Linked DNA regions of Homo sapiens. The protein of the gene in region 2 interacts with the protein of the main gene of each other region in a pairwise test. Each region holds a gene or a part of one and is shown on either strand. Other genes may lie near its edges.

What was found. Proteins that work in one complex are often made in the same cells at the same time.
Region 1: the proteins of ITGB2 (region 2) and NOTCH2NLC interact in binary tests that used the Homo sapiens proteins (3 or more experiments, as listed by UniProt).

Annotation. Positions count from the first base shown.
Region 1 is NC_000001.11:149,455,797-149,460,120, reverse strand, and holds part of NOTCH2NLC (notch homolog 2 N-terminal-like protein C), read right to left. Parts: intron 1-4,324. UniProt on the Homo sapiens protein: Human-specific protein that promotes neural progenitor proliferation and evolutionary expansion of the brain neocortex by regulating the Notch signaling pathway.
Region 2 is NC_000021.9:44,900,400-44,905,548, forward strand, and holds part of ITGB2 (integrin beta-2 isoform 1 precursor), read right to left. Parts: intron 3,137-5,149; coding exon 2,966-3,136; intron 1,335-2,965; coding exon 1,093-1,334; intron 77-1,092; coding exon 1-76.

The sequences.
Region 1 (4,324 bases), on a different chromosome or scaffold from region 2:
AATATTTTCAGTGACTTACATCATCAATACCATCATCATCATGATGGAGATCATGGATCATCCTAACTACCCTCTACCCCACCAACACCTTTTGATGAATGATATGGTTTGGTAGTGTCCCCACCCAAATCTCAACTTGAATTGTATCTCCCAGAATTCCCATGTGTTGTGGGAGGGACCCAGTGGGGTAACTGTATCATGGGGGCCAGTCTTTCCTGTGCTATTCTCATGATAGTGAATAAGTCTCATGAGATCTGATGGGTTTCTCAGGGGTTCTGCTTTTGCTTCTTCCTAATTTTCTCTTGCCACCACCATGAAAGAAGTGCCTTTTGCCTCCCACCATAATTCTGAGGCCTCCCCAGCCATATGGAACTGTAAGTCCAATTAAACCTCTTTTCTTCCCGGTCTCGGGGATATCTTTATCAGCAGCGTGAAAATGGACTAATACAGTAAATTGGTACCAAGAGTGGGGTTTTTGCGAGAGTGCCAGCTATCCCGAGGGAAACTTTGGAGGGAACCAGCTACTAGATGGTTCAATTAGTCTTTCGCCCCTACACCCAGGTTGGATGACCGATTTGCACATCAGGACTGCTACGGACCTCCACCAGAGTTTCCTCTGGCTTTGCCCTGCCCAGGCAGAGTTCACCACCTTTCAGGTCCTAACATTTGTGCTCATGCCCCACCTTCCCAGTGCAGAAAACAAGATGGGCCGGTGGAAAGCTGACCTGGCTACTGCCACCGCAGAGTGCCCAATTTGCCAGCAGCAGAAACCAACACTGCGCCTTTGATATGGCACTATTCCTCAGGGTGATCAGCCAGCTACTTGGTGGCAGGTTGATTATGTTGGACTTCTTCCATTGTGAAAAGGGCAGATGTTTGTCTTTACTGGAATAAACACTTACTCTGGATATGGGTTTGCCTATCCTGCATGCAATGGTTCTGCCAAGACTACCATCCGCGGACTCATGGAATGCCTTATCCACTGTCATGGTATTCCACACAGCATTGCCTCTGACCAAGGCATTCACTTTATGGCTAAAGAAGTGCAGCAGTGGGCTCATGCTCATGGAATTCACTGGTCTTACCATGTTCCCCAACATCCTGAAGCAGAACGGTGGAATGGCCTTTTGCAGTCACAATTACAATGCCAACTAGGTGAGAATACTTTGCAGGGTTGGGGCAAAGTTCTCAAGAAGGCTGTGTATGCTCTGAATCAGCGTCCAATATGTGGTACTGTTTCTCCCATAGCCAGGATTCACAGGTCCAGGAATCAAGGGGTGGAAATGGAAGTGGTACCACTCACCATCACCCCTAGTGATCCACTAGCAAAATGTTTGCTTCCTGTTCCCGCAACATTAAGTTCTGCTGGCCTAGAGGTCTTAGTTCCAGAGGGAGGAACGCTGCCACCAGAAGACACAACAACAATTCCATTAAACTGGTAGTTAAGATTGCCACCAGGACACTTTGGGTTCCTACCTTTAAGTAAACAGGCTAAGAAAGGCGTTACAGTGTTGGCTGGGACATCAAGGCTATCAAGACCCAGGCTATCAAGATGAAATCAGTCTACTACTCCAGAACGGAGGTAAGAAAGAGTATTCATGGAATACAGGAGATCCATTAGGGCGTCTCTTAGTATTACCATGCCCTGTGATTAAGGTCAATGGGCAACTACAACAGCCCAATCCAGGCGGGACTACAAATGGTCCCGCCTGGATGAATGAAGGTTTGGGCCTCTCCATCAGGAAAAAAAAAAACACAACCTGCTGAGGTGTTTGCTGAAGGCAAAAGGAATACAAAATGGGTAGAAGAAGGTAGTCATCAATACCAGCTACTACCATGTGACCAGCTGCAGAAATGAGGACTGTAATTGTCCTCAGTATTTCCTCCTTCTTTTATTAAAAACATGTCTGTGCTTGCACACACTTGTACTAAGAAAATATCTTCATTTTATTTCCTTTCTCCTTTATCATGTGACATAAGATTTATTGACTTCACATCAGCATTTAAGTATCGTTAACTTTATGTAAGAGTGTTTCAGTTGGGGACTGGTGTGTTTCCGGATGTACGAAGAATAGTTGTACTACATCAGGTGTAATTATGACCTAATTATTGTCTTTATTTGAAGATTATGTGTGATCTCAGGAGATGTGTATGGGTTCAAGTTGACAAGGGGTAGATTTGTGGTGGTTAAAACTGAGTGTGTCAACTTGATTGAATTGAAGGATACAAAGTATTGATCTTGGGTGTGTCTGTGAAGGTGTTGCCAAAGGAGATTAACATTTGAGTCAGTGGGCTGGGGAAGGCAGACCCACCCTTAATCTGGATGGACACCATTTGATCATCTGTCAGCAAATATAAAGCAGGCAGAAAAACATGAAAAAGCGAGACTGGCCTAGCCTCCCAGCCTACATCTTTTTCCCGTGCTGGATGTTTCCTGCCCTCAAATATCGAACCCCAAGTTCTTCGGTTTTGGAACTCAAGACTGGCTCTCCTTGCTCCTCAGCCTGCAGACAGCCTATTGTGGGACCTCGTGATCATGTGAATTAATACTTAACAAACTCTCCTTTATATATATATAAAGATTGCCAATATATATATATTAAGATTGCCACCAAGACACTTTGGGTTGGAATATATATACATACATATATATTCCATTAGTTCCATCCCTCTAGAGAACCCTAATACAATGAAAAATTAATATAACAGTATTCTACACTAACTGATCCAGTATAGTCTTCTGAGTACATTTTTCACTTTTTTGCTTATTGCATTTATAGAACTCTTGGTTTAGTGCTTAAAGCAGGAGAAAAAATGAAGAATGTTCCTCCTTTTCTCATCTAATTTAATAAACACTTTTGAATAAAGCTCAGACCCACCTAGAAAAACCCACAATCTATTCAGGTGAGATATGTGTAAAAAAAATTACAATAAAATGTGATACATAAAACTAATAAAACTTAGAGACCATTTGCCTAAAGGAATCATGAAAGGGTCACTAAGACACAGTTTTAAATAACATTGGACAATCACCAGTTGTAGAAAAGGGCATTCCAGGCAAAAGGGTGTGTAACTGTATGGAAGCAATAATAAGTACAACATTTTCAGGAAATAAGGAGAATTTGGTGTGACTAGGCCTAGATGCTTGTGGGGAGGCCAGGCTATAAAAAGATGTAAAGTCTAGGCTGTAGAGAGCTATGGAAGTCATGTAAAAGAGTTTGCAGTTTATTCTGCGGATGATGAAAAAATATTAGACATTGTAAGCAGGTGAGATTGTTAGAATATTTGCATTTATAATCAAAGATGTAGTAATATCATGGGTGAATGAGATGGGGAGAGAATAAAGGCAAGAAAACGTATTCAGAAACTACTTCAGAAGCCCAGGTGAGAGATAACATGGCCTTCAGCTACAGGGTAGCAGAGGAAATGGGAGGAATAGACAGGTGAAAGGCAACTCAGAGGTTGGCTTGGGTGACTGAGTTGAAATGAGGTCAGAACAAGGGACAGGGAGTTTCTAGCGTGGGTATTTGGGATGTACATGGTTGCTACGTATTTCTGTCAACAAGGTGAGCTGAAAGTACCTGTAGAATATCTCCAAGGAGAACATACAAAGGATAGCTAGAAACATGAGCCTGAATGTCAGGGTTGGGTGGAGCTAAGGGAATGATGGTGAGATTCATCAGCAAGCTAATGAAGACAGTGGCAGTGGAGGCGAATACAGACAGTGAAATTCCCTAGGGAGAGCTGTGATGTGGCTCAAAAGAGGGCGAAAAACAGTGCTCCAGGGAGCACAAACATTTAATGGATAAGAACAAGGTAATGAAGAAGCAAAAGGAACAGGGTTCAGAAAACCAGAAAAGCCAGTGCCCTGAATGTCTAGGGAGGGAGATTTCTAAAAGCAAATAGTCAATAACATCAGCAACTTTTCCTCTGGTGACAGTGTACTTATTTCTTTTAGTGAAGTAAACTCTGATTCCCCATCCTGGTGTACATATTTTTTTTTTTGAGACAGGGTCTCACTCTGTCACCCAGGCTAGAGTGCAGTGGTGCGATCATAGCTCACTGCAGCCTCAAACTCCTGGGCTCAAGCAATTCTTCCACTTCAGCCTCCCAAGTAGTTAGGACTACAGGTGCACACCACCACACATGACTAATTTTGTTTTATTTTTATTCTTGTTTTTTTGTAGAGATGGGGTCTTGCTATGTTTCCCAGGCTGGTCTCAAACCTCTAGCCTCAAGTGATCCTCCTGCCTTGGCCTGCCAAAATGCTGGGATTGCAAGCGTACGCCACCGCACCTGGCCCTGACATATATACTTTAAGCAG
Region 2 (5,149 bases):
CGTCGCCCGCGAAATGGAAGCCGTCATCAGTGGCAAACACCAGCAGCCGCGTGACGTTGCGCCAGCCGATTTCCTCCTGAGAAGAAGGCGTGGGGGGCAGGGTTACCTGCCTCAGTTTCCCAGACCCGGCCCTCTGGAGCAGAGGAGACGATGCAGAGCTGGTGGGGTGGCCCGGAGGCTGGTGTGGGTCCCCCTTTCCCCTGGGTCTCAGGGACCCAGCTGTGTTCCCCCAGACGCCACGCCCAGGAGGAGACAACGGCCCTCAAACACCCCGTGCACATGTGAGGCGCAGGGAGTGGAGGCACGTGTGGAAAGGCAAGGAGAGAGACACGGCTGCGGTCCCTGCACTTCAGAGCTGGGAACAAACCCTCAGGAAACCATCCCCAAGGGGAAAAACCCTCGCAGACGTGTGGGCCACACGCAGAACGAGTGCAACATGGAGGAAAACGAGCCTGAGGGGCCCAGCAGGCCTTGAGTCCACCATTGACAGCCCCTGGCAGGCGCATGTGGGGGCCGTGCGTGTCCTAGGCTGTGACCTCACACTCGTGAGCAGTGTGTCTGCGCTGGGACTGCAGGGAAGCAGGAGAGCTAAGGTGGGTTGTGAGGGGAGGACAGTGCATGTGGCCTCAACATGGCCCAGGGACTGTGGCTGCTCTGTTAGGCTGACAGTCACAAACTGGGTGGGCGGGACGTGGAGAGCGACACACACTGGGCAGCCAGCGCCCACCCGGCCTGGAGGGAGGAGGGTGGTTCCACCCCAGGAACCACGGGACCTGCTGCCTAGCGGCCCTGTTCCACCCTTGGCCGCTCGCAAAATGTTTAGGCTTCATAAGGTTTGCCCAGGGTCACAAATTTAACTCACAGCAAACAATGAAATCAGCGCATGATTTTCGAGCCCTCGTGGTCACCCTCCCTTCCTCCTGCCCTTTCCTGCATGGGCAGCAGCAGGGTGAGGAGCTGCTCTCCCCAGGCCCAGGCTGGAGTCCCTCAGACGACCTGCCGGCCAGGGTACCCCCCTGCCCCCACACAGCGCCTGACAGAGCCCCCCACACTGGGGGAACGTGGGGACCCAAGCAGGGGCAGCGGCCTCACCGGGCAGGCGGCGACCTGCATCATGGCGTCCAGCCCACCCTCGGGTGCATCCAGGTTTCCGGAAATCAGCTGCTTCCCGACCTCGGTCTGAAACTGGTTGGAGTTGTTGGTCAGCTTCAGCACGTGCCTGAAGGCAAACGGGGGCTGGCACTCTTTCTCCTTGTTGGGGCATGGGTTTCGCAGCTTATCAGGGTGCGTGTTCACGAACGGCAGCACGGTCTTGTCCACGAAGGACCCGAAGCCTGCAGGGCACATGGAGGGGCTGGGGAGGTGGCAGGCTGGGCCCAGGTGGGAGGGCCAGCTTCAAAGGGGCACGAGGGCAAGCCTGTTTCCTCTCTCCTAGCAGGGAGGTGGAGAAAGCAAGATGGCACATGTGGAGTGTGTGTGTGAGCATGTGCGTTGTGCAAGCACACATGTGAACGTATGTGGGCGTGTGTGTGAACCTGGGAGTGTGCAATGTACATGGATGAGCATAAGTGTATGCATGTGTGTTCCTGCATGTATGTGTGTGACCAGGTATACATGTGGGCATGTGAACAGGTGCGTATGTGTATCTGTGTGTGCAGCCATCTGCATGTGTAAACATGAGTGTGTACATGCGTAGCACAACTGTGTGTGCACGTATTCCTGTATGCATGTGAGCATGTTCAGGTATGGACACACCTAGTTCACGTAGGTGACCAGGTACATATGTGGGCATGTGTGTTTATGTACGATTTATACATGTGAGTGAAGACATACATGGGTGATCATGAGTGTGCATGTGAGCATGTCTGTGTGCACATGTGGTCTTGCACGTGTGTATGACTGTGTGTGCATGTGTGTGCACATGCAAGTGTGAGCATGCATTCATGTGTGTGAGCATGCATTTGTGTGTGAGCGTGCATTCACGTGTGTGAGCGTGCATTTGTGCATGTGAGCATACATTCGCGTGTGTGAGCATGCATTTGCGTGTGAGCATACATTCATGTGTGAGCATACATTCACATGTGAGAGCATGCATTTGTGTGTTTGAGCATGTGTGTGAGCATACATTCACGTGTGTGAGCATGCATTCACGTGTGTGTGCATTTGAGTTTGGGTGTGCTTTTGTGTGTGAGCATGCATTCGCGTGTGTGAGCATCCATTTGTGCATGTGAGGATACATTCATGTGTGAGTGTGCATTCGCATGTGTGAGCGTGCATTTGCGTTTGAGCATGCATTTGTGTGTGAGTGTGCATTGCATGTGTGAACATGCATTTGTGTGTGAGCGTGCATTCACGTGCATGAGCGTGCATTTGTGTGTGAGCGTGCATTTGTGTGAGCATGCATTTGCTTGTGTGTGTGTGTGTTATCGTGCATGTGTGCATCCCCGCATGTAGGGAAGGTGGCAGAGTGCCGATGTGAGAAGCCACGGCCGGCGGGGAAGACATGCGCTGTGACTGACACACACGTGTGCTGGAGACCTGCTCTGTGGCAAGGCAGTGCTGGTGTAGAGCGGAGCCCTTGGCCCAGCAGAGCTTGCTGTGTGGTTTCTTCAGTGCTGCCGTCGCTGTGCCGTCTATATGTGTTGTGGTCTTTAATGTTTAATAATTGGCACTGTCAGAATTTTGTCTTTTAAACATACCAAGAAATAAATAAAGGAAGTAGAAGATGGAAGGGGAAGTGGAGGGCTGGACAATGTCTACAAGTGTTGGGGAGCCAGGGACTGGGTGTGGCCCCTGGCAGGGAGGCAGGCCGACTGCAGCCCTGTGGATGCCCTGGGGGGACCTGCATCTGGGGCCCCCAGATCTACCCTGGGGACCTGAGTGCGAGGAGTTGTGTGGGCCACAGGCAGGAGTGGCCAGGGTCTGGGAAAGGACTGGGTTTTGTCCTGCAGTGCCTGGGCCTCACCAATGCGGCCGGACTCGGTGATCTCGTTGAGGGCCCGGAGCAGGTCGCCACCTAGCTTCTTGACATTCCTGAGGTCATCAAGCATGGAGTAGGAGAGGTCCATCAGATAGTACAGGTCGATGGGGTAGCCCTTGGCCCGCCGGAAGGTCACGTTGAACGCTGCTGCCTGGCCTGCCGGTGGGGACAGAACAAAAGGAGCCACACCTCACATCTCACACAGGGTGTCTGGGGGCGTGTGGCCCCGAGCGGGCTGTGCACTGGCACCCTCTCCTCCAGCCCCCAAATCCTCCTGACCTCCCCTCTCCCCGCCTGGCAGGAGAGCTGAGGACCAGACACAGGACATCCAGGCAGGCTGGAGTTTCAGAGGAAGGACATGACTCCCGGACGCAGGCATGTGCCTCGCAGTGACACTGAAACCCGCCTGGGGTGCTTAGAGTTGACGCCAGCGACATTGGGGACGCCTTTCATTGAGAGTGGCAGCGGCTCACCTGGGCTCACACCTAACCCGGCCCCATGCCTGCAGTCCCACGGGCGCCCTCATCAGCAGCCACATAGACAGGCATCACACGAACCTGGCACTTCCCAGCAAGGCCCACGCGGGCCGTCCCCAGGAGGCCCCTTTCTCCATCCCAGCCCTGGACTTCCGCTCGCCCGCGTCTCAGTCACACGTGCGGTTGTGTAGCTGTCTGTTTACCTGTCACCGCAACCAGCCTGTGTCCCTGGCTCCCAGAACCGTGCCTGGTACAAGTCAGCTCTCCATAAACACACATCATGTTAATGAATGAGCAGGGAGGGAGGGTGACGAAGCCTGTCCCCTCTGCCCCACCCTCCAGCCTTCAGCCCCCCTGGGCGGCAGGACAAGTGCAGAGCCCACTCCACCCCCAACCTGCCTGCTGCCACACCCTGGGAGAAAGGGTATGTGCCCCTCCTCACAGACACACACACACGCACTCCTACACATAAATACACCACATGCACACACAGTCACACATGGCATACACACCCACATATATGCACACACACAATACTCACACACAAATATAACTCATGCACACACAGTCACACGTAGCACACACGCACCCACATATACACGCACATGGCACCCACACACAGCAAACACACCACAAATATGCACACACACCACAAACACCAACCACCACACATGCACGCATACACACACACCTCACACTCATACACAACACCAGACACAAAGCACACATACTATATGTACTTGTTCATATACACAAACACACCACATGCACGCACACACACTCGCACACACATACACACACCAAACACACACACATGCACTCACGCACATACACCACACACATGCACTCACATACACATGCATGCCACACACATATACACATGCCACACACATGCATTCACACCCATACACACACGTGCCACACATATACACACACCCCACACAATGCTAAACACATACATACCACACACACCATGCATACACACACACCACACACACATGCGCTCACACACACACACACTCACCCACATTCACACCCGGCACTCCTGGCCCTGGCCCTCGCCCTGCTGTGCCTTGCAGCCCTCAGAGGCTTCACTTGGCCTCTGGGCCAAGGACCCCAATCACTTTCTATGAAGGGCCAGACAGTAAATGTGTTTGGCTTTGGGGGCCGTGCGGCGTCTGCAGCGACATGGAGGAGGCAGCCAAGACCATGTCCCCACGAGCAATGTGGCCATGCTGCAGTCAAAGGGCACAGACATAGGCCTTTGGTGGCTGACCAAGGGGCCCCGTCCCTTCCCTTCCAGAGTAGAGGCTCAGCGAAGGGCCAGCAGGCTGCGGGGGTAGGGCCAGGACCCCGCGAGAGGACAGTCCCTTCCCAGATCCTGCCGCCCTGCTCTGGGAGCCTGTGGCCCTGGGGTGCTGTTAAGATCTCTCCCTGGTGCTCACCCGAGTTTGCCTACCCTCACCTGCATCCACCCGAGCTCACCTGTGCCCTCCCAGAGGCCACAGCATTTGCCCCCTGCACAGTGGGGATGCATGCCAGGCCGTGGGCAGCCACTCCCCCACCCTTCCCCACGGCACAAGGATGCCCCCACTCAGGCGCACCCCCACCCTCCAGGACGATCCTTCCTGACACCTCCAGCACCACAGAGCTGCACAAACTCTGGCCACAGGCAACACCTCTGTCAGCCTCA